7 linked regions of the Homo sapiens genome follow. The protein of the gene in region 1 purifies or fractionates together with the protein of each later gene. This does not show direct contact. Each region holds a gene or a part of one and is shown on either strand. Other genes may lie near its edges.

Evidence for each region.
Region 2: the proteins of NHLRC3 (region 1) and RAB6B fractionate together in Homo sapiens (co-fractionation; one large-scale study listed by BioGRID). This does not show direct contact.
Region 3: the proteins of NHLRC3 (region 1) and HS6ST1 purify together in Homo sapiens (affinity purification with mass spectrometry; one large-scale study listed by BioGRID and IntAct). This does not show direct contact.
Region 4: the proteins of NHLRC3 (region 1) and SLC19A1 purify together in Homo sapiens (affinity purification with mass spectrometry; one large-scale study listed by BioGRID and IntAct). This does not show direct contact.
Region 5: the proteins of NHLRC3 (region 1) and RAB6A fractionate together in Homo sapiens (co-fractionation; one large-scale study listed by BioGRID). This does not show direct contact.
Region 6: the proteins of NHLRC3 (region 1) and SPRYD7 fractionate together in Homo sapiens (co-fractionation; one large-scale study listed by BioGRID). This does not show direct contact.
Region 7: the proteins of NHLRC3 (region 1) and MR1 purify together in Homo sapiens (affinity purification with mass spectrometry; one large-scale study listed by BioGRID and IntAct). This does not show direct contact.

What each region holds. Positions count from the first base shown.
Region 1 is NC_000013.11:39,044,956-39,048,455, forward strand, and holds part of NHLRC3 (NHL repeat-containing protein 3 isoform a precursor), read left to right. Parts: intron 1-2,084; coding exon 2,085-2,197; intron 2,198-2,718; coding exon 2,719-2,971; 3' UTR 2,972-3,500.
Region 2 is NC_000003.12:133,836,883-133,840,382, forward strand, and holds part of RAB6B (ras-related protein Rab-6B), read right to left. Parts: intron 2,736-3,500; coding exon 2,624-2,735; intron 1,378-2,623; coding exon 1,284-1,377; intron 1-1,283. UniProt on the Homo sapiens protein: The small GTPases Rab are key regulators of intracellular membrane trafficking, from the formation of transport vesicles to their fusion with membranes. Rabs cycle between active GTP-bound and inactive GDP-bound states.
Region 3 is NC_000002.12:128,270,369-128,273,868, forward strand, and holds part of HS6ST1 (heparan-sulfate 6-O-sulfotransferase 1), read right to left. Parts: intron 1-3,500. UniProt on the Homo sapiens protein: 6-O-sulfation enzyme which catalyzes the transfer of sulfate from 3'-phosphoadenosine 5'-phosphosulfate (PAPS) to position 6 of the N-sulfoglucosamine residue (GlcNS) of heparan sulfate.
Region 4 is NC_000021.9:45,535,941-45,539,440, forward strand, and holds part of SLC19A1 (reduced folate transporter), read right to left. Parts: exon of another isoform or gene 2,899-3,500; coding exon of another isoform or gene 2,819-2,898; intron 2,069-2,818; coding exon of another isoform or gene 2,020-2,068; coding exon 1,831-2,019; exon of another isoform or gene 1,827-1,830; intron 1,430-1,826; exon of another isoform or gene 1-1,429. UniProt on the Homo sapiens protein: Antiporter that mediates the import of reduced folates or a subset of cyclic dinucleotides, driven by the export of organic anions.
Region 5 is NC_000011.10:73,754,575-73,758,074, forward strand, and holds part of RAB6A (ras-related protein Rab-6A), read right to left. Parts: intron 1-3,500. UniProt on the Homo sapiens protein: The small GTPases Rab are key regulators of intracellular membrane trafficking, from the formation of transport vesicles to their fusion with membranes.
Region 6 is NC_000013.11:49,929,841-49,933,340, forward strand, and holds part of SPRYD7 (SPRY domain-containing protein 7), read right to left. Parts: intron 1,295-3,500; coding exon 1,178-1,294; intron 1-1,177.
Region 7 is NC_000001.11:181,040,483-181,043,982, forward strand, and holds part of MR1 (major histocompatibility complex class I-related protein 1 isoform 1 precursor), read left to right. Parts: intron 1-3,500. UniProt on the Homo sapiens protein: Antigen-presenting molecule specialized in displaying microbial pyrimidine-based metabolites to alpha-beta T cell receptors (TCR) on innate-type mucosal-associated invariant T (MAIT) cells.

The sequences.
Region 1 (3,500 bases):
TACTGAATCTCTTTTGCTTTATTTCTTTGTGCCTAGTACACAGTAGTCATATTTATTTATTAAATGACTAAATGTCTTGACACACAATGGGTACATTAGGCTACTTGCCTTCATACCATTAGGCATTTAATCCATTTCTACTTCTGATTCAGTGCTCAGCAAACAAACTTCTAATTATGACTTGGCTTCCTAATCATAATTGATTGACAAAAATGAGAATGTTTTGATCATTAAATCTTCTGATCTGCCATAAGACGTTAATCAACCATGTGAACTTTGTATATAAATTGGGAACTGGAAACTTTGAATTAAACTTTTGCACATTATCCTCCTGAGCTTGGGTGACTCATTGTGTGCTAAGAAAAAAAATCAAATTTCAGAACATGCGAGACCTCGACCCAGGTAAATTCATCATGGTGAGGAACGCCCTTCTAAAAGGCCTTGGAAATCATCTGATGGGGGTACTCTGGCATTCCTGAGTGATAAAGAGTGTCAATTATACAAAATTGTGTTTTATAACAATAGCAATTCTGTTCTGAGCATTTTACATAATTAATTCATTTAATCATCACCACAACCCTATATGAAAGGTTAGTCAGTTCCAGACTTGTTGTTATGTGTTAAACAGGAGTTCCCATAATCAAAATTCATTGAGTGTTGAGCAGGACAGATGATGCTAACAATCTAAAGTATCATTCCATCCTAGGGTGTAAACTATACTTCTTCCTTGGTCATTTGTCTGGGATACTAGTCTCAAACTCTTTAAGAAAACCTATCCTTACTAAAGGACCATAGATCAGGAAAAGACCTTGAGAAATTGCTTTACTTTGGCATCAACAACCTTTCTTAAATGGTGTAGTGAGTTTTGATTTGTTTCTGATTGGAGATTAATTCAATGGCTACCAAAATTCACACATATTGATGAAGCTGTAATCAGGGTTACCTGTGAAGAAATTATCTCTCAATCCACAAACCCAAGAAATCCAAAGGACCAAAAGCAGGGAGGTAGAAGTAAAGAGGACTGACCCACTCCCAGTCCATTCTTTCATACCTCTCTACAACCCTGGCCACAAGTCATCAAAAACCATTTCCTGCCGGGTGCGGTGGCTCACGCTTGTAATCCCAGCACTTTGGGAGGCCAAGGTGGGCAGATCACGAGGTCAGGAGATCGAGACCATGGTGAAACCCCATCTCTACTAAAAATACAAAAAAATTAGCCGGGCGTGGTGGCGGGCGCCTGTAGTCTCAGCTACTCGGAGAGGCTGAGGCAGGAGAATGGCGTGTACCCGGGAGGCGGAGCTTGCAGTGAGCCGAGACTGCGCCACTGCACTCCAGCCTGGGTGACAGAGCGAGACTCCATCTCAAAAAATAAAAAAAACCATTTCCCTTTATGCTTTAAGCTGCATGCATGTGGCCATGAAATGTCATTTAGAATGCATCTCACTTCTTGTCTTAGAACAAGTTCCTTAATAACCCATTACAGCCTATAACAAACCTAAATTAAACCTATTACTGTTCTTTATTTGTTGCTAAAATACCTCAGGCTTCTTCAGTTGGTTCAGCACTCTGTACATACCTTGGTAATAGCAGGTATGGGTTTAATGATACTGCAATCTGAATGAATACCTCACATCCTGCTATATTGAGCTCTTGAGAAGTAAGGCTGCTTTTCTTTGTCATGTTGCCTGGCCCAGGAGCTGACAAGCCAGTAGTACTCATTGAAAAATGAATGCTTGTTAGAGGAATGAATGAATGTTGTCAGTTTTCATTATCTACTGATCCCCTGCATTATGGTAGAGTACTCCAGCTTTTTAGTTATTCACACATTTAGAACAGTAGACAGAGTATTATAAGCTTTGGGTTAAGACAGCTTTGGGTTGTGCCTCTCCCATTTGTAAGCTCACTTCAGAGACGGCAACCTTTCTGAACTTTAGTTTTTCCTCATCTGAAAATGGGACTTAACTACCTTCTTTGGAATCCTCTTAAGTGAGATAATGTATGGTGAAACTAATGAAAATAAACATTCTTTTCCCTTTTTTCTTCTCATGGATATTTTTCAATTGACATTTTTGTGTGTTTCTCAGGTGTGGGTTGCTGACCGAGGAAATAAAAGAATCCAAGTATTTGATAAAGACACTGGGGAGTGGTTAGGAGCATGGAATAATTGTTTCACAGAAGAGGGACCTTCTTCAGTCAGGTAATTGTTTCATTTTATTGCAAAATGCTTGTTTTAGTTAGTGTATGTGTCTCACTTCCTCTGAATAGCTAGCTGAAAGTTTAAAATATTTATTGTTAATTTTGAATTAGGGGAAAATAGAAATATACAGAGAAATTTGATATCCAAGATTTTCAGATGCCAGGTAAAGTGAAAACAAGAAATAACATATGCTAGACCTCTCCTCTAGCCTTTATTTGGTAAATGTTTAAACAGGACAAAAATCAAACCCAGCCTAACATCAATTCTTCATTAATTTCATTTTGTGGACTATGATATTGATACTTTTAACAAATTTAAGCTAATCTTTGGCTTTGCTTACCATCATGGACATCTTATTCCTTCATAAACAGAATTAGATCAAATTAAAATTCTTCTTAAAAGAATCATTCAGCAAGTAGGTGCCTACTGTTGTTTGGCACAGTAGGGGATTAAAATGTTGAAAAAAAATACCCTTATGTTTTTTCACAGACATTTATTATGTTAAATGTCTTTCTCCTTAGGTTTACTCCTGATGGGAAGTACTTGATTGTGGCCCAGCTGAATCTTAGCAGGCTCTCAGTCGTAGCAGCACCCCCAGTGGGAAGCATTGGGGAGTGTTCTGTGATCAGCACAATCCAACTAGCAGATCAAGTTTTGCCACATCTCCTAGAAGTCGACAGAAAGACTGGAGCAGTCTATGTAGCAGAAATTGGAGCAAAACAAGTACAAAAATATGTCCCTTTGAATAGCTATGTTCCTTCATTTGGTTCATAATGTTTCTTTCCTGGGAATATTTCAAGTGGCAGTTCAGATTCTCAATTCACTAAGTGCTTAAAAATGATGTTCAAGCACAAGAATTTATTTTTCTAGTATAAAAGATCTAGTATCAGAAAGATTTGTTTTTGTATCATTAAGAATCTTATATTTTGTTGCCCTCTTGGGACTTAGTTTTATTTGTAAGTGCATAAGGATATTTTAATGAAAGGAAAGTAACTAAAAAATGGGGTTGGGAAGAGGGACTAAGGTGGTAACCTCATTATTTGCCCTGGTAGACTGATTCTCCCTGGGTAAAAAAAATGGGAATAAAAATGAGCTTGCATGATAATTTATTAAATTTCATGTGAAGAACTCCAGACCTCCAGATTGTGCAACTAACATAAAATGAGCTGCTTGAGAGATTGTAAATAAGATGAACTATTGATTAATTTGAGTACCCACAGAGTGCTGTGTCTTGACGACTTAAAAATGAAAAAGCAGGATTGCCTTTTGAGTAGCTTGCAGTCTAGTGGGGAGACAAGCAGGC
Region 2 (3,500 bases), on another chromosome or scaffold:
CTTCTTGTCTCTTCTTGTCGTTCTGCCAGCCCACCTTCCCCACTGCCACCAGCACTGTCCACACAGGGCAAACCATCACTGCATCCAGAAGGCCAGTGCTGTATACACAGCTTGCCAAGGGTTCCCAGCAATGCTGGGGTGGCAGGGCAGAAGCGACCGCCAGGCCAACCACACTCCTCACCCAGAGTCCCCTCCCCATACCTCGGGCACCCTGCAGCCACACCTTTGCTGCTCCCCTGCTTGGCATGCCCTCCCTCCTCACCACCTCTCCAAGTCCTTCTCATCCCCAACGGCAGGAGTTCTTAACCCTTCCGTGAGCCAAGGACCCCTCTGGCAATCTGGTTAATCCTATGGACTCCTTTGAAGTATGTGAAATCAATTACATAGGATGATAAAGGGGACTACTGAGTACTGAAATAAAACTTCATCGACATTTGTGCTTCCTTATGAAACACATTGAACAGCGAGAACTAGCAAGAGATCTAATAAGTAGTGTGATGCTGAAACACTGATAGATGTGAAGTTCAAGATACCTGCAACACTATGAGGTGATGGGAAGGCATCTGTGATTTCTATTGGTGGTAAAGCCATAGGCACTGCTAATGTGACTGAGTGTCATTGCCTACATTCATCATTGAAGGACAAATCAGACGTCCTTCAGTGCTACGGACGGGTCAGTGGTTAGTGAAGATAAAGGTGCAATGTTTTCCAGCCCTGTCTGCTGACCTGCTAAATTCCACCCATGGACTACTCAGGGGCCCTCATGCTGCAAGGCTCAGCCCTAACTCCACTGCCTCGCCCTCCTGTGAGTTCCAACCACATCATGGTAGGCTCTTTCCCCCAGGCCTGAGTTGCCCTCCACAGCCCTGAGCACTTGCTAAGCGCAAGGCATGAACCCCAAATGCTGATCAGATTGAATTTTCCTGCACCTGTCATCCAAAGTGGGGTGAGGGGCTAGGGAACCACTGCTTCCCTCAGCCTCCTGGAAGCTGGTGGCTGGACACTCTTAGGGCCTGCTACGTGGGCCGTGACTGGCAACTACTACGGTGGCTGGTGACTTATGTTCTCCAGATGCCATGCCCGGAGTGGTCCCTCCCTCTTTTGGGCTTTACCAGCTCCGGAAATTAGCTCTCCCCTCCCTGGGCGCATCTATGGGTGTTCTGGTTGGCTGCCCCAATCCCATCACCAGCCCTTCAGGGCAAGGCAGCTCTGAGCCTGCAGCTGACCACAGGGCTACACCGTGCCGGGCCCCGTGCCGGGCCCCGTGCCAGGTGTGTCCTCACCTGCTTCACGTTGTAGCCAGTCTTCGCACTGGTCTCAATGAACATGACGCTCAGTTCTTTGGCGCGCTGCTCCCCCTCCTCGATGGTTATCTGCCTAGAGATGAGGGGAAGGGGGGAAATCAGCTCAGCAGAGAAGCAGACCCTGGCAGATATGAGGAGGGACCCACCCAGCAGGGCAGAGGGAGCCCACTGGGCCCTTGGTCAGTCCTGAAGACAGGCTCTGATCCCAAGGGTCCCTCCCGGGCACCAACCACAGTCTCGCTAGCACAAAGCAGGCACCAGGGAACAGTAGGACACTATCCGCTTCCCCCACTCCTTCCTTTGTGTCTTCTCAGCTTCAAAGCAGGCCCTGGGGTAGGGCTGCCCCATACCTGCCTTTCCCAGTAGTCACTACTGCAGAGCCTGTGCTTATGAAGAGATTCAAGCCAGGCAGTGCCACTCTGGGTGGTATTATCAGTCGCATTTTCCCTGTGAGAACACTAATGCTAAAAGTGTCTCCCCCAGGGCCACAAAGCTACTTAGCAGAGAGGGCTCCATGATGGGGCAGGCAGAAGTGGGTGAGGGTATGAAGGGCCTGGGTACCCTTTGTACTGGGATTTGAGCCCAGTTTTCCTTACTTTAAGGACAGAACTCTAGTAAAGCAGGCTCTAATTCAGATGATTCCTCAGGTGGTCAAGGGACGCTGCAGGAAGCCCACACTGCTTGCTGGAGTCCATGGCCTGTCACTTTATCTGCCCAAGTCAGGGTCATGTAAAATGAGTGGACAATGTACACACATGGCACCTCAGTTCTCCCTGTGCATGGAGGGCAGCATGGAGGAGCCTCTTCAGAGAAAGCTTCATGCCAGACGCAGCCACAAACCAGGCTAAGCAGGCTACGGCCATAGGTTTGTGGTCTGAATGCTCTGCATGCTCACACCTAGGGCCCAGGGCATTCACAGCCCCACGCACATTGGTGCAGACACTTCACAGGCACAGACAGTTCACAGTGCACACGCTGGGGCCTAGAGGACTGCTGTGTCTGGGGCAGGGCTGTGGCCATGGCAGGGCCTTAGACCATGCACTGCTGGGTCAAGCCAGGTGCACAGTGCTCTGTGTAGACAGCAAACGGAGAAGTGCCCCGCCCCTGCCTGGTGGTGGAAGACAGGGCTTCACAGATGAGATACCCATGGATGAGAGTCTACCAGGTGTCCTCAAAGCTCCTAGTGTCTCAAGGGACCTTTTCCGGATGCATGGTCAGAAGCACAGACACACCACCCATGCATCCCAGAGCTCCCTGTCCAGGAGCAGTTACAGAGGAGTGGAGGGTGGCACCCTGCACCTGTGTGCCCTTGCACCTACCTCTTATCAGCCAGGTCCGTCTTGTTGCCCACCAGCATGATGATAACATCACTGCCCCTCTCTGTCCTGACGTCGTCGATCCACTTAGAGGTCTGTTGGAAGGAGTTGAGATCTGGAGGCAGAAAGTGAGGATAAACTGAAAGCCAGGGCCAGCCACCAGTGGGAGATGGGAAGGGGAGGTGTGAGCCAGGAGCAGGAGGGAGGGTGAGCATGTGCCCTCAGATACCCAGGGAGGGGTGTGAGCTCAGTCAACACAGATCAGCTGGGTAGGGCCTTTCAGAGGGAACCGGGCCCTGCCCTGCGGCCCTGGGGAGCCACTTGCACTGTTCAGCCACCCTTTGTGGGAGAGGAATCACCCCATCTGGAAGATCACAGTGTCATGATTTGCCACATGGAATAGTGGCTTTAGGGGCCCACCTGAGAGACCTGACTCTGGGGATTCAGAGTGGAGAGTGAGAACTGGGTCACACGTGTGTGTGCATACACACACACACACACACATGCGCGCGCGACTTGGCAAGTTTGGGAACAGTGAGGGTGGGCAGAGGAGGACACAGCAGCCTCTAGGGAAGGAAGGGCCCTACTGAGTGGTGTCCCCACCATGGGAGCTCAGGAGAGTTTGGGGAAGGCCAGAGGGGTTTCTGAAGAGAACCCTCAGGCTCTGCAGATGAGAGGAGGGGAAAGGTGGCCCCGGGACTAGTCAGGGGAGCCAGGTGCACTCAAAAATCCAGGAGAGACAAGGCCACTTCTGGGCAGCCTGACCCCCCTCAGCTGCCATGATAGGCCTTGCAGGGCAGAGCAGCTATAAGGCAATACCCACCACTCGGCAGCCTGCACACCCAAGGGGAGGGGAGGTAGCTGTCCTCAGAAGCCTCAG
Region 3 (3,500 bases), on another chromosome or scaffold:
CCAGGCTCCCACTTCACACGTCCCAAGGCACACCTGGCCCTCCCCAAGCACCCTGCACCCACAGCCTGCCTGGTACCACCCATCCATGCTGATGGCAGCAGCTCCTGGGCACTCGGGGCCTCAAGGGCCAGAGGGCGGGACCTTCTTCAGGTAGCAGGTGAGACAAACGTTTTAGAAACAATAATGACCAAGGGCCAGGGAGTAAGGGCCCGAGGCGGCCGGGGCAGGCTTCTGTCTCCTGCCTCAGGCTCACGAGGCCCTGACTGCTCAGAAGAGGCTATCCATATCCTTCCTAGCTGACCCTGTGTCCAGGGGAGGCATAGGGCCGCATGGACCTCCGCTCCCCACTCCTGTGGGGCCGTGACCAAATGGATGGAGACAGGCCAGTGTGGCAGGTTTCTTCTGAACACAAAAAACCACAGTGTGATGTGTCCACCAACAGAGAAGCTTGCCCTCCTAGCCCCAGCCAATGACCCTGTGAGTTACAGCCACAAGGACTCTGGCCCCAAGGGTGACTCTGAGGGCAAGGACACGCTGTGCACAGTGCAGCAGGCCCCATCTGGGAAACACAAATGGCTCAGTTCCTCTCCCATTTTCAGCGCCCCAGCCCACAGGCGGGTCCTTCAGCCCCAGCCCCACACCCATTCAGGGACCATCCCCTGAAGCCCAAGGCATGCCTCCATCATGAGCTCCTCTGCCCATGGCCCAGAGAGGGTGTGTGACTTGCCCAGGGCCACAGAGTCATGACACTGGCCAGGGTCTGTGCTAGCTGACTGGAAGACCTGCAGAGCAAGCTGCCCTGTGCCTGGTTAGCAGCGGGGACAGATCCCGTCAGAGGCCCAAGCATGCAAGGGCTTGGCACCCTGCAGATGGGGTCTCCCATGGTGTAGCCTGTGCCTGTGTGTGTATCGTGCAGGCTCCAGAAGACGCTGATGAGCCTTAGAGCCTGCTGGTCATGTCTGGAGCCACCTAGCCAGCGCTGGGCCTAATGACTGAGGGAGCAGGCAGAAGTGGTGTGAGGCCCCTCGGTGGAAGGGCTGCTTCTGGGCTGGTGGAGGGTCCGGGTCACCTGCCTGGCTCCCACCTGGGAATGCATGCAGGCACCAGGCCTCGATCCAGCCTGTTCCTGGACAAGGGCCCTGGCTCCTCAGCTCTGGGGGTGCAGAACACGGGGAAATGCGAGGGAGGGAGCACAAAGCGGGGAGCTCGTGGCCAGGCTGTGAAGTGTTTCTGCTCAGTTCTGTCCGCCCCTGCTGTCAAAGCCTCCAGCTTCATGGCAGGACAGACTCTACCTGCCCTCACCCTCCTGCTCACAGTGGGCGGCTGCAGCCCCAGAAGACGCAGCACTCAAAGCTGGGGTTGCCACCTGCCACGATCCTGGCCTGCAGTGACGGGTGGGCACGAGGGCCCCGATTGACCCGAGGGCTTTCCCCTCCTGGGAGGAACTCATTCCTCAGCCGCACACAGTGGTCTGACCACACCGTGGGTCTTGGCAGCCAAGCTCGAGCGGCTGCCACTAGGGCACATAACTGCAAATGCCAGGTCAGCACCAGAGCACAGAGGGATGGAGGTGAAGCCGGCACCTTGGGAAGGGCCAAGACATGGTCTACACCAACCCCATACCCAGGTCCCCTGGGCGTTCAGATGGCCCCTGGCCACCTGAAGGCAGGAGCCTGGTGGTGAGGGCAGCCATGGGCCACAGCCACAAGGCTCCCTTCTCTAAGTCCCTTCTCCCTGGCAGCGACGTTTCTGAATGACAGCCTCCTCACCCCTGCAAAGCTCAGGGCCTCTGCCGTGGAGGGGCTGGAGCGTCTACCTGCTGCCCTCCCGATGTGGCCTGGTGCCCCCTCCCCTCCCCAGCACCGTCACGGTCTGCAGGTAGGAGGACACGGGTATATCACCCCTGGTCTCTGCATGGGCCATGCCCTTCACTGGAATGCCAGTGTGAGTGACCGCCCCTTGGTCAGACCTCTCCACCTTTAAGACCCAGCTCAAAAAGATAAGCGGTTGCCAGTGCAGGAGTGCGAGAAGAGCCCAGAGCACCCAGCAGGCACATGTAGTATGCACAGTGGGCCGGCTCTAGTAGCCCCAGATGGCACGCGACCTACTGACCATCACGGGTGGGGGTGGCAGCAGGCTCAGTTACCACGTGTCCGACGGCAGCATCCTCTCTACACAGCTGAGGGGACACAGCTGAGGGGAACAAAGGCCTCTCTGCCTGCGCCTGCAGGGGCAGTGTCTTGAGGGGACAGTGAGACCCCAGGGCAACTGAGGCAGAGTTGGGGGCCAGAGACAGGGAGGAGAGAAGAGGGCTCGATTTTCTGGGTCCAGCCATTGAAATGACTCGGGTTTTTTGTGTGTGAGCCACTTAGAGAAGCCGTGAGCAATTTACTCTTTGGTTTCTGAAAAAGCTGGGAGGGTGAGCTGCTGAAGACAGACACTCATTTGAAAGCCATCTAAGTCCGGGGCCCTCAGAGGACTGGAGGGGAAGCTTTCTCCTTTACTGCCCCAGGCCTGGCTCTCTCCTCTGCCAAGGCCTTCTGTGCACAGGAGGTCTAGCAGGCACCAACAGGGGCAACGGCAGGGGAAAGGGGCACCTGAGCCAGCGAAAGCCCTCATGGTCCCTGGAATGACCAAGCCTGTCAGCCTCACCTGTCCTTCCTGCGCCCATGTCCCACATAACCCTTCTGGACCAAGGCCTCCCGCTGCAGGGACAGCTGCTGGGGAACCACACCAGGGAGGCGGGTGTGTTCAAAGATATTAGCAGTGCTGGCCCAGCGGCTCTGCGTCTTGTAATAAAATGGCGCAACGGACACTGCACCTGGGGGAGCCTTAGGAGCTGACCGAGGCCCCTGCCCTAAGGCCCAATGGCTTACGCTGTCCCCACGGCTCCCTGTGCACCTTCTCTGCTCAGAACATTGCCATGCCCTGGGTCCCCTTGTTCTGTCCCCTAGACACGGCCTGTGGTATAGACAAAGGGCCAGCCAGACTCTAGAAGCTGCCTGTGAGGCCAGCAGCCAAATGTGGGTGTTCCTGCCCCTTTCTGCAGATGTGACAGCTGATCCAGGCAGGGTGACCTGCCCTTGGCCACCGTCCAGTTCCTACCTACACCTGCCTGAACGGTATGGAAGCCACTACCTGGCACGCCCCTCCATAGCCGGTGGGACTCTTTAGGAGCCAGAGGCGTCCAGTCCCATGCCCAACACGCAGAGCCCTCCCCTCCCCTCTGCCTTGTCCCCTTCCCTCTGCCAAACACTGCAGGCACTGCTGGCCACAGGCACGTCCTGGCCATCCTCTGGTCTGGTGCCCCAGCTGCGCCTTGCCCTGTCCCACCTCCTGTGCTCCGTCCTCTTTCCTCCATTGCATGCGTTGCCAGACGCATCTGCTGTTTACTCTCCAGTCTGTCATCTGCCAAAAGGCGGGGTGGAGGTGTCAAACAGAAGCAGGAAGAGGGCGGGGTGTGGCGAGGTGCAGAGGACTCCCCAAATGGCCCACCCCAG
Region 4 (3,500 bases), on another chromosome or scaffold:
CCTGGCAGGCTGGGCCTCCCTTGCCCCCGAAGCTGCTCCCCGCCCACCTACTGGTGGCTGCCCCTGCACCCCGGCGCCCACGTGCCTGCTCCCGCGTGAAGTTCTTGTCGGGCCCCAGGAGGGAGGGCGTGATGAAGCTCTCCCCGGGCCTCTCCTGCAGCCAGAGGGGCTGAGATCGGGGGCCCCACCAAGTGGCAGGTGCGCAGAGCACCTGCACCCATCGTCCCTCTGATGATATCCAAGGCCTGGTGGAATGGCTTAATTTCTGGAATCTACTTTTTAATCCGTTAATGTACAACATGAGAGGGCAGGCAGATGGGATTTAAACATTTTTGCTCTAGAGACTTTTCTTATTTTGTTATTTTAAGGGAAACGCCACACATAATGCTCACCCCTATAAATAACCTTGGCGGTGGACAGTGGCCCTCCACTAAGAGCAGAGATGCCATCTGGTCAGTGGGTGGCAGGGAGAGGGACGGACTGGCCAGGAGCAGAAGGCATTTCATGAGGGGTCAAGGAGATGGCTCCGCCGCTCCAGCCCCAGCCCCGCCACCGACAGCCGGAGCCAGGGCAAGACCCTGTCCTCGCCTAGAAAGTGACCCAGCCTGGCGGTTAGCAGTGCTGGCCGTGGGACGAGACACAATCACACCGCACGGTGCTCTGAGCTGGGCACGCGGGAAGGGCAGCACCTCCACTGTCCCAATAGCACACTCCTCAGCTGCACATCAGTTTCACAATTCTAGGGTCTGGGAGGGTTGGGGTCCGGCTTCCGGCCAGGAGACACAGGGAACAAGAGGCATGCCGAGCGTCAGCCATGTGGGAGCAGAGGACGGGGTCAGCGGCTGGGATGGGCAGGTGAGCAGGCCCAGGGCCCTGGGATGGGGTGTCGGGGTGACCAGCTGGGCCGGCAGCCTGTGAGAGCGCTTTTCCAGGCTCTTCCTGTGCAGATGTGCCTTATGGACAAGGACCCCACAGCTCCAGGAGGAAACTGCTTCGGATACGGCCGCTCCCGCCTCCACCGCTCATGTGACCTGAGAGACCCGTGACTGGGCATAAGCCTATTAGAACAGTTTCAATAAGACCCTTTGTCCTCATGGCTGAGTAAAATGAAAATTCCTTCAATAATCTCTTTAGGTAAATAGCCACTAAGTCTCTGTGGAAGGCAGGTGCCCAGCAGGGTTGGACGTGGGCTTCCTCACCAGGAGGGCCGATGAGCACGGCCTGGCGGGTGGGGTGGGGCAGGCTCTCTCTCTGCAGGACACAATATCACTTTTTATCTAGCCTGGTTACTAGGCCGAAGCCAGGCCCCTCCATCTGATGGTGCCCGCTGCTGGGAGTGTGAGACCCCAGCCGGGTTCCCTCCAGGACCATATTATCAGCTGACACGGCCACTCACCCGCTCCAGCCTCAAGTGCTCACACATCCAACAGGAAAAGCGCCCTGGCCCCTGAAGCTGCTCCCCGCCCACCCATAGGCGGCCGCCCTGGCACCCAGCACCCACGTGCCTATTCCAGAAGCTGCTCCCCGCCCACCCACAGGCGGCCGCCCAGCACCCCGGTGCCCACATGCCTATTCCAGAAGCTGCTCCCCGCCCACCCACAGGCGGCCGCCCGGCACCCCGGCACCCACGTGCCTATTCCAGAAGCTGCTCCCCGCCCACCCACAGGCAGCCGCCCTGGCACCCAGCGCCCACGTGCCTATTCCAGAAGCTGCTCCCTGCCCACCCACTGGCGGCCGCCCCCGCATCCCGGCGCCCACGTGCCTATTCCAGACGCTGCTCCCCGCCCACCCACCCACAGGCGGCCGCCCGGCACCCCGGCACCCACATGCCTGCTCCCGCGTGAAGTTCTTGTCGGGCCCCAGGAGGTAGGGGGTGATGAAGCTCTCCCCTGGCCGTATCTGCGCCATGAAGCCGTAGAAGCAAAGGTAGCACACGAGGTGCCGCCAGGACCGGAGCTCGGGGTCAGGCCCAGGTTCCACGGGCACCTGCTTCTCCACCGCTGGGCTGGAGGGCACCATCCTGCTCAGGCCACGTGCAGCTCCGGAGGGGACGAAGGTGACGCTGTGCCTGGAAGGAGGGGTGGAGTCAGGGCACCTTGGAAGATGGTCTGCAGGCCTCCCTACCCCGCAAAACGAGGCCCAGTGCCGGCCTCCTCGCCACTCAGGACCAAACGCCACCCTGGAGACGAATGCAGACCCCAGACCCATCCTCACCCCGTAGCACCAAACTGGGAGCCACCCACACCTGAGCTGCTCCGGAGTCCCCCAGGCCAGGCTGTCACCACCTCCAGGGTCTCCGAGGCTGAGGGAAGTCTCCAGCCACATGGAGTGATTTAAGTGCCAATCAAAACCAAGTTAATTAACTAATTGACTTACTTTATTAACTAAACTAACAAAATTTAGGGTTTGGGGCCACACTAGACTCATGGCACTGCTGGGCAGTACCTGTGGCGGTCAGGGGGCACACCTCACCCCACAGGCCTGAGGGCAGCCCACGTGCCTGCTGCTGCTCTAGCGGCACCCAGGTGGCCCAGGGAGGGCACAGGCAGGAACGGACGCTGCTGGAGGCCGGGGTCACACCACAGGTGGCCAGCGGCGGGTGGCTGCAGGTACCAGCCTCAGGTCCCCATCAGCCGCGTGCCCTGGCAGGAGGGCGTGCAGGCCAAGCCCACAGTGAGGGAAGGGCAGAGGGAAAAGCAGGTGTCCTTGAGGGGGCTGAGAGCAGCCAGGGTTGAAACACGCGTGGGAGGGAGGATGGGATGGAGCCGAGGCCCAGCCCCTGAGCCCAGGGACCCCAGCATCCCCGGCGGCAGGTTACCCTAGACGAAAGCAGCTGGCAGGAGCCATGAGTGGACCTGACACGTTCCAGATGGAGCACCCCAGACCACAGGACTTCATCCACGAGGCAACATGCACCCAACCTTGGGGACCATCCCGCCAGCACCCCCGCCCCACACGGCCAGGGCACGTGGTGGAGCAGCAGCAGCACGAAGCACACTCGAGGGCGTGTCTCTTTCAGTCCTGATTCTGCCCAGGAGAAAGGCTCCTCCGGTGCGGGCAAGGGCACGTCTCACCACCACAAATCGTGCCTTTCAGCTGCGGGGCAAAAGCCTGTCCACTTATCAGAATCATGTCTCCAGGTGCCACGTGGCCCTGGTTTTCCATTAAGGCCTCGGTGTAAAGTTCTCCTTCAAGTAAGTCAAAAGTGAACTGCCATAAACAAGTGTGTCAGACGCCCACACCAAGCCAACCCCGTGAGGCCAGGACCTGGCCCTGGTCCCCCACAGGTGCACCTCACGTCTGTATCAGCTGACCTCTGCTCCCGGAGGCCAGGCCTGGCAGAGTGCACGTGGAAAGGCCATCTGCTGCTCAGGTGGGGTGGGGATGCAGCGCATGCAGAGGGCAGCTGAGCAGCCTTGTGGGGCGGGGTCGCCGTCCCATCTGCACTGGGCTGACAGTTGGACAATTGTGCCTCGCCACAGGGCCGGCTTGGGAGGGTG
Region 5 (3,500 bases), on another chromosome or scaffold:
TCTCACTAAATATCTGTTTGGAAAATAGTTCTTTTTCATTTCAGAAATGATGTTAACATGAAGGCTGGGCACAGTGGCTCATGCCTGTAATCCCAGCACTTTGGGAGACCAAGGCAAGCAGGTCACTTGAGGCCAGGAGTTTGAGACCAGCCTGGCCAATATAGCAAAACCCTGTCTCTACTAAAAAGTCAAAAAATTAGCCAGGCATGGCGGCATGTACCTGTGGTCCCAGCTATTCAGGAGGCTGAGGCATGAGAATCGCGAACCCGGGAGGCACTCACTCCATCCTGGGCAACAGAGGGATGCAGTCAAAAAAAAAAAGGGTATTAACATGCAATGGGTTTATTATTATTATTATTATTTTTTTGAGATGGAGTTTTGCTCGTTGCCCAGGCTGGAGTGCAATGGCGTGATCTTGGCTCACTGCAACCTCCACCTCCCGGGTTCAAGGGACTCTCCTGCCTCAGCCTCCTGAGTAGCTGGCACTACCACTGGGACCGTCCACCACCATGCCAGGCTAATTTCTTTGTATTTTTAGTAGAGACGGGGTTTCACCATATTGGCCAGGTTGGTCTCAAACTTCTGGCCTCAAGTGATCCGCCCACCTCGGCCTCTCAAAATGCTGGGATTACAAGCATGAGCCACCACGCTCGGCCCTATTATTTTTTAACATATTAAATATTTTGAAATTTTCTTTTTCAATACAGTAAATGTTGATATATTTATTCATTTATTTTGAGATGGAGCCTCACTCTGTTGCCCAGGCTGGAGCGCAGTGGCACGATCTTGGCTCACTGCAACCTCCACCTCCCGAGTTCAAGCAATGCTCCTGCCTCAGCCTCCCGAAGAGCTGGGACTACAGGCACGCACCACCATGCCCGGCTAATTTTGTATTTTTAGTAGAAACGGGGTTTCGCCATGTTGCCCAGGCTGGTCTCGAACCCCTGACCTCAGGTGATCCACCCACTTCGGCCTCCCAAAGTGCTGGGATTATAGGCGTGAGCCACCGCACCCGGCCTAAATGTTGACATAAACTACATAAACAAAAGTCAGGCACAGTGGCATGTGCCTATAGTCCCAGCTACTAGGGAGGCTGAGGCAGGAGGAGAGCTTGAGACAAGGCTGCAGTTGGCCATGATAGCCCCTGTGAACAGTCACTGCATCCAAGAAGGGGGAAGGAAATGGGAAGAGGAAAGGAGGAAGGAAGGGAGAAAAGGAAAGGAAGGGGGAGGTGGAAAGGGGGAAGGAAGGGAGAAGGGGGAAGGAAGAGAAAGAAGAGGAGGAGGAGGAAGAAGAACAAGAGGAGGAGGAGAAGGAAGAGGAGGAGGAAGAAGAGGAGGAGGAGAAAGAAGAGGAGGAGGAGGAAGAAGAACAACAATAACAACTACATTAACAGAGCTCTTCAGGATCCTCAAAAATTTGTAAGAGCAGAAAGGGGTCTTGGGGAAAAAAAGTTTAAAAACCACTGATCTAGCCAATATAAAATGTTCAGTACTGGCCAGGCGTGGTGGCTCACACCTGTAATCCCAGCACTTTGGGAGGCTGAGGCCGGAGGATCTCGCCAGCTCAAAACTTTGAGACCAGCCTGGGCAACATGGTAAAATCCCATCTCTACAAAAAAATACAAAAATTAGCCAGGCGTGGTGGTGCGTGCCTGTTGTCCCAGCTACTTGGGAGGCTGAGGTGGGAGGATCACTTGAGCCTGGGAGGTGGAGGGTGCAGTGAGCTGAGATCACACCACTGCACTCCAGCCTGAGTGACAGAGGTAGACCCCGTCTCAAAAGAAAAACAACTGGTCAGTACTGCTAGTCTCTGACAATAAGACATTTTTTCCTTATCTAACATATTGCAATTTGATCAGCATTGATGGAAAAAAAGAAAAGGCAATATAAAGTGAAAAAAACAGTAGTAGGCTGAGTATGCGCTTCTCTCTGCCATTACATCTCCTAATTTATAATTGGTAACATGTATATATAGTGAAATCTTCTACTGTAAACCACTGAGTGACATTACTAAAACTGCCTCTGCATCTCAAGACAATAGCCAGAGGTAGTAACAAAACAGACTCCTCAAGGAAACTTCCAATTGTGTATTTCAACATTCCTTTATTTATTTATTTAGAGACAAAGTCTCGCTCTGAGGCCCAGGCTGGAGTGCAGTGGGGCAATCTCAGTTCACTGCAACCTCCACCTCCTGGGTTGCAGTTTTCCTGCCTCAGCCTCCTGAGTAGCTGGGATTACAGGCACACGCCACCACGCCCAGCTAGTTTTTGGATTTTTAGTAGAGATGGGATTTTGCCATGTTGGCCAGGCTGGTCTTGAACTCCTGACCTCAGGTGATTTGCCTGCCTCGGACTCCTAAAGTGCTGGGATTACAGGCGTGAGCCACCACGCCCAGCCAAACATTCCTTTATTAAACCGTAAGAATTTATCTAAGGTTAAGATTGATGTCATTAACTCAATCTGCTTCATGTACTGACACAATTCATTTTCACTATAGAGCGTAGTATCTTAAATATACATACATATATATATATATATATATATATATATATATTTTTTTTTTTTTTTTTTTTTTTTTTTTTCTTGAGACAGAGTCTCACTCTGTCACCCAGGCTGCAGTGCAATGGCATGATCTCAGCTCACTGCACCCTCCGCCTCTCAGGTTCAAGCGATTCTCCTGCCTCAGCCTCCTGAGTAGCTGGGATTACAGGCTCCCACCCGCCATCATACCTGGATAATTTTTGTATTTTTGTAGAGACCGGGCCATGGGGTGGGGGGGAGCCGGGGACTCCACCATGTTAGCCAGGCTGGTCTTGAACTGCTGACCTCAGATGATTCACCTATCTCAGCCTCCCAAAGTGCTGGGATTACAGGCATGAACCACCGCACCCAGCCTAGTATCTTAAATTTTTGATAAGCCAAATAAAACCTAATTTCAAATCAGTTCCATGAGCACATCATTGGTATAATTTGAATACTTTTCATGCGTTACATTAATAGCAAATAATTTAACAACTTTAATAAAGGAAGACGAATTTTGCTCAACTCAAAAAAAAGTACAAAATTCAGGTCAGTCCTATTTTTTGAATGAAATGGTTGGGCCTCTAAACGATTGGTTTCTCTACCCCCTTAAGTATCTGATATATTCCTGTATACAATCAAATGATGTAAGTTTTAAGTGTTATTGTTAAACTATCAATTGCGTAACCATGTCAAAGAGTGTAACATAGGCTACTAGCTTTCGTTACTACTAGATTCAGCCATCATTCATTTACCCAACATGTCTGAACAGCTACTATGAGCCTGGCTCTACGCTAGGCAATGGGGACACACTGAACAAAAAAGAATAGTTTTTATCTTCATGGGAGTTGCATTCTTCTGTGGGAAATAAAAACAAACACATAAAAAATAAGATAATTGTAAATGTGGTAAATGCTATTAAGAAGAAACAAGGCTTTGCCATAGATTACAGTCTTTGAAAGCTGAATTGTGGAATTC
Region 6 (3,500 bases), about 11 Mb from region 1:
GTGCAGTGGCATAATCTCAGCTCACTGCAGCCTCTGTCTTCCGGGTTCAGGCAATTCTCCTGCCTTAGCCTCCCGAGTAACTGGGACTACAGGTGCCCACCACGATGCCTGGATGATTTTTGTATCTTTAGTAGAGATGGGGTTTCGCCATGTTGGCCAGGCTGGTCTTGAACTCCTGACCTCAGGTGATCTGCCCACCTCGGCCTCCCAAAGTGTTGGGATTACAGGTGTGAGCCACTATGCCCGATCACTTTACAGTAAAGCTTTTATTTTAAAAGTTTTCCCATATACAATACAGGCACAGTTAACTAACCTATTATAATCACATAGAATTGCTTTACAGTTCAAGAAACTCCATAAATTTTAAAAAGAGAAATATAGACTGCAGACTTCTATCTGAATTCTGAATTTGATGACTGCTTCAAAACACTGAATCAGGGTATCTTAATAACTGAGTTAAGAGAAAAACTCTGGCTCATGCCTGTAATCCCAACACTTTGGGAGGCCGACGAGGGCAGATCACAAGATCAGGAGTTTGAGATCAGCCTGACCAACATGGTGAAACCTCTGTCTCTACTGAAAATATAAAAATTAGCTGGGCATGGTGGTGCATGCCTGTAATCCCAGCTACTCAAGAGGCTGAGGCAAGAGAATTGCTTGAACCCGGGAGGCGGAGGTTGCCGTGAGTCAAGACCGCGCCACTGCACTCCAGCCTGGGTGACAGAGCAAGACTCCATCTCAAAAAAGAAAAAAAAAAAGAAAAACTCAGAATCAACAGATTGACTTTAATCCTAAAATAAATAGCAAGAGTATATGCTGCTTATATGTTTGACCTTATATGCTTGACCAAACAAGAGGGTTCATCCGGATCCCATTAAAAATACTAGTGCCTTATATTTATGCAGCATGTCTTGTCTTAAAACACTTTCATACATAGAGTTCCTGTGAGGCAGAATGGGCAGCTCCTGTAATACCCATTTTATAGATGAGAAAACTGAACCTAATTTAACTAAATTAACTAATTTACCCAGGATCACACAACAAGAGGTGGAAGACCCAGATCTTCTAAGAGTTTGGTGCTTTTATATTACCTTCTGAATCTTTTTTATGTGTTACAAATTACTCTTAATATTTAGAACAATTAGGACTTTTAATAGTAAAGTACCATTATACCAACCTGTGGACTGGATTTTGAATTCAAAATAGCTTTTGTTTTGATGTAAAGGTGCGCTGGCTAAACAACCTCCTGTTCCACATATTCTTCTTCCATTCTTTACAATAACAACATCTGTTCCTAAACAAAAAATGCAGACACTATGTAAAGTTTTGTATTTTCTTTTCTTTTCTTTTCTTTTTTGAGACGGAGTCTTGCTCTGTCACCCAGGCTGGAGTGCAGTGGCACGGTCTTGGCTCACTGCAACCTCTGCCTCCTGGGTTCAAGTGATTCTCCTGCCTCAGCCTCCCGAGTAGCTGGGACTACAGGTGTGCACCACCACACCTGGCTAAATTTTTATATTTTTAGTAGAGATGGGGGTTTCACCATATTGGTCAGGCTGGTCTTGAATTCCTGACCTCGTGATCCGCCCACCTTGGCCTCCCAAAGTTCTGGGATTACAGGCGTGAAGCACCGCGCCTGGCCAAGTTTTCTATTTTCAATCCAACAATCAGGATTAATTTGTTCAGTTCTAACTCAGTCCACAAAAAATAGGGACACTGTAAGTACTTTGAAATATAGCTGAATTATTTTAAATATTTAATTCACTATTTTTTCCTAAGAGAACATTTATAAGTAATATTCATTTGTATGTATAAGTTTTAATTAAGCATGCTGGGTACAGTGGTTCGTACCTGTAATCCCAGCACTTTGGGAGGCCGAGGTGGGCAGACTGCTTGAGTGCAGGAAGTCGAGACCAGCCTGGGCAACCTTGCAAAACCCCATCTCTATAAAAAATACAAAAATTAGCTGGTGTGGTGGCACAAGCCTGTAGTCCCAGCTACTTGGGAGGCCGAGGTGGGAGGATCACTTGAGCCTGGGAGGCAGAGGTTGCAGTGAACTGAGATTGCACCACTGCACTCTAGCCTGGGCGAGAGAAGTAAGTTTTAATTAAGCAGTTTCAAGTAAACTGCAATAACTCTGAATTATATTGAACGTTCAAAACACTTTTAAGGTAGAAATAGACTAACTCTTTTAATTTTTAGCCAGGAAACCAATTTGATGATTTCATAAATTTCTTAATTTAAACCAAAACATAAACACAAGAGACTTTAGTAAATTGGTAGTTTTCAATTCTATTCAAATGAATTAAAACAATTTACTAAAAGCCACCTGAATGCCTACTAAATACAAGCTACTATACTTGTGCATTAGTCATGTAAGAACTGAAGAGTACAGGGAATATGAAAAAGAACACACATCTATGTTGAAATACCTGACAGTGACAAACTGCTAACTTTAGGATCTTAAAATGTTTATTAAGATAGCTACTTCAATCACATTGCAAATATGTAAACAAGGTTTTAACATTCTTACATGCACTTTATTCTCGTAGAAAATTTTTTAGATGAAACGACATCTATAGATGAGAGTGAGAAAGAGAGACACTGTCTCCTGATGTGATCCTAGTACCAATTTGATTTAGGAAAATGTCTATCAGAGAATATACATAATTCTAACATGTAAGAATACACAGAATTACATAATTCTAATATGTAAGAAATAGCCCATACACCAATGCATAACTCCCCATACTTGTGGCCACTACCACCACTTTGCTGGCAATAACTGTACCAGCCAAGCAGATCTGAATATTCGAACTGTATGGGACTCTTCCAGAAGGGGTTAAATAAAATTAGGTCATAGTAACAAAAGGTTGAATTAACAGTTAAACAAAATTATTTGGTACAAATACATAAAAGAAATGCAAAATTTTCAGATTCTAACACAATTCTAAACTGGTTAAGAGATGCTCTCCCTTAAACAAGGCAAAACTGAGATCCTATTGTATGATTACTAAAAATTCATTAACATCTTTTTTTTTCTAATTAAAAAAGTTAACCCCCAAATTCTGGGAAAGTACCTTTATAAATAATTTGCATCTGGCTACTCCATATACCTCCAGTAATTTCAACTGGAGAGCATCCTCCTTGATGGCAAAGACCATGCAGTGCTTGGCATTGAGCAGCTGCTCATCAAATAACTGATAAAGGTTGAATTAATATGCTGTGCTAAGCACTTTGTAGTGGACATGCAGTATCTGTTCTCCCTCTCCCGACAGACTTCCCTCTGGAGATCAAAACAGTTCCAAGAAAGCTGACTCAATCTCTGCTTCAGGTGTACAACATTTGATCTAGGTTAAGGCAATCAGTGCCCTCCACATTTCTTGGCCACAGTAACTGAGTCAAGAACTGCTACATGACCTAATCAACTACAATCAGAATCTCAGGACTTTTGCAGAGCACAATGGGATATAACACTCTTGGCCAGGCGAGGTGGCTAACAC
Region 7 (3,500 bases), on another chromosome or scaffold:
TGTCAATCAACTTCCCACCACAGCAGAGGTAACATTTTAAAGGCCCAGCTAAGGAGCAAGCATGACTTGTTCCTGTGGAGGCACCAGATGGGTAACTGGGCCCATGGCAAATGAAGAGGAAGGGACTGTGATGTCCTGGAGCAGAGCCACGCTGGGCTGAACCAGTGGTGGATGGGTGTGACTGAAAAAGCAAGTCCAGCCTTTAGGTGCCTGGACTTTGAAGTCAAGGCTGGCTGGTGGAGAACAACTGTTTCAAAACCAGGCATCAGAATTAGATTGAAGTTAAAAAAAAAAAAAACCCAGAAAGAAAGAAAGACACAGCCAGGCACGGTGGCTCATGTCTGTAATCCCAGCACTTTGGGAGGCCAAGGCAGGGGGAATCATGAGGTAGGAGTTCAAGACCAGCCTGGCCAACGTGGTGAAACCCCATCTCTACTAAAAATAAAAAAATTAGCTGGGTGTAGTGGCAGGCGCCTGTAATCTCAGCTACTTGGGAGGCTGAGGCAGGAGAATCGCTTGAACCTGGGAGGCAGAGGTTGCAGTGAGCAGAGACTGTGCCACTGCACTCCAGCCCGGGTGACAGAGTGAGACTCTGTCTCAATAAATAAATAAATAAATAAATAAATAAATAAATAAATAAAGCACAATACTTACTTGGACAGTATTGTCAACAGACCATATTTCTCTCTATCTACCTCTTTTAACTTCAGATAATGCAAATTCTTGTGAAAATTACATTTTTATAAGAAAGCAAAGTTACATGAATTGTAAATATTATGTTTGGAGATGATGCTGGTGATACTTAACTGGAATAAATCCTGCTATTGGGCACTAATGCCCCAAGTTGTTAATACTGGAGGTTTTTTTGCTTGTTGGCATCTATCAGGAATGTAGACCTCAGAGATCATAAAAATAGAAAACCCAGATTCCAGGGGATGTTCTACACCAACCCAGCTTAGCTCAGCAACACAGCATCTTTTTTTCTTCCTTCTTTTTTCTCCTCTCCACATTCTCTGTCTGGAGTCTGCTCTCCGTGGGGATTTTTTCCCATGAAAAACTATGGAAGTGATTCCTCCCTCTTTCTTTTCCCCTCACTCCCTCAACTCCAGCCACAGGCCTTTGTGCTGCTCCTGGAATGTGCCAGGCATGTTCTTTCCAGGGGCCTTTGCATGGCCCTTCTTGTCCAGACTGCTGTCCCCAGACACCTGCCTGTCTCCCCAACTCCTTGCAGGCACTTGCTCAGAATTCAGCTTTGTGGGAAACCTTCCTTAATACGCCTTCCTTTTTTAAATAGTGTTGCCCATTCCTCTTTGCAGTTTTATTTTTCTTCACTGTACTTTAAAAAAATTATATATTTTATTTTCTAGTCTGTCTTCTCCCCTTCCCCCGACTAGGGTGTAGACTCCATGAGGGCAGACATTTTTATCTGTTTGGTCTGGTACAAGCTTAGGGCCTAGAAGAGTGGCTGGCACAGAAGAAGCATTGGATATACAAATCAATATTAAGGAAGTGTGAGAACTAATATTCACAACTTGTTCCTCCTTTTGGGTCCTCCTTCTTTAGACAGTTGTGTACCTCCAGTGTAGCCACAAAACTTTCCAGATGTGAAAAAATAGAACTATTTCAAAATCAATTGCAGAATATATATAGTACCCTTTGCAGATCCCAGATTGCAGTTCAACTCTCCATTCACCAGCCTTCCCTTGAATCAAAGATAATTTTTTTTTTTTTTTTTTTGAGATGGAGTCTCGCTCTTGTTGCCCAGGCTGGAGTGCAGTGGCGCGATCTCGGCTCACCACAACCTCCACCTCCCAGGTTCAAGCGATTCTCCTGCCTCACCTCCCTAGTAGCTGGGATTACAGGCATGCGCCACCATGCCTGGCTAATTTTATATTTTTAGTAGAGATGGGGTTTCTCCATGTTGGTCAGGCTGGTCTTGAACTCCTGACCTTAGGTGATCCACCCACCTCGGCCTCCAAAAGTGCTGGGATTAGAGGCGTGAGCCACCGCGCCCGGCCAAATCAAAAATATTTTTTAGGCCAGGTGCGGTGGCTCACGCCTGTAATCCCAGCACTTTGGGAGACCAAGGCAGGCAGATCACCTGAGGTCGGGAGTTCAAGACCAGCCTGGCCAACGTGGCAAAAACCCGTCTATACTAAAAAAAAATACAAAAATTAGCCAGGCGTGATGGTGGGCACCTGTAATCCCAGCTACTTGGGAGGCTGGGGCAGGGAGAATTGCCTGAAGCAGGGAGGCAGAGGCCGCAGTGAGCCGAGATCACGCCACTGCACTCCAACCTGGGCGACAGAATGAGACTCTGTCTCAAAAAAGATCCAGGTTAAATAGATTCATATTCATTTCAGCATATTTCATTATTCCAAACCACAGAAATAAAGTGTTTCACCAACAATTTAATTCACCCAATATTTACCAAGCTACTACCATGTGCCAAGCTCCCTGTGCTAAGCTTTGCAGGAAATACAAAGGAAAAAAGCAAAGTCCCTGTTCTTAAGTGCTTTAAGATTGAGAAGCAGGTAGAAGGTAGTAAGCAGAGGGAAACAGAAGGCAGAATCTGGTAGCTATTGGTTTTACGACAGAACTCATGCTCTGATGCAATCTCTGGCTCTTGTTTGCATAAGAACCAACACTTTTATGAAGAGGCTCTCATGACTACCCCAGAGGCTTCCACTGTCTTCCCTCCCAACCCAAGCCCTCACCCACCACAGGAAGGGAAGGGGGAAGTAAAAGGTCAAAGCAATACAGAGGGACATTGGGACCTTATGCTGCCCCAGCCTGTGGGAGGCCAGCCTCCATCCTGTTCAGTATTGCAGCTGACATGCAGGATAACACCTGTGAGGGAGGAGCCCATGGGGCGGGGATACCTACTCTGAACCCTGCCAAACTGCTACACCCCAGCTCCAGGAGCAAGGAGAAAGAAGTGCTAACAATGATTTTAATTGCTGGGCGTGGTGGCTCACATCTCTAATCCCAGCACTTTGGGAGGCCAAAGTGGGAGGATCACTTAAGGCCAGGAATTTGAGACCAGCCTGGGCAACACAGACCCTGTCTCTATTAAAAAGAAGTGGTGACGTGCTTATAATCCCAGCTACTCAGGAGGCTGAGGTGAGAGGACCACTTAAGCCCAGGAATTCAAGGCTACAGTGAGCTGTGATCATGCCGCTGCACTCCAGCTGGGCAACAGAGTAAAACCCTGTCATACACACACACACATATGCACACACATACATACACTAACTAGTACAATCAGTTGCTCTGGGAGATACCTCTCAGGGCCTCTTGTTTTTCCTAGTATGCAAGGTAAGGGTACCCTGGCCTTGGGGTGGTCAGTTCTGAAAGATAACCTGCACATTATGAGTTATTTCATAAGCAGTTTTAGAGAAAAGAAAAATATAAACAAACTTGTAGCACAGAAGCTAATCCAACTATTTTGTGAGCTGATTTTTTTTTTTTGTCTGATCTTTTTTTTTTTTTTTTTTTTG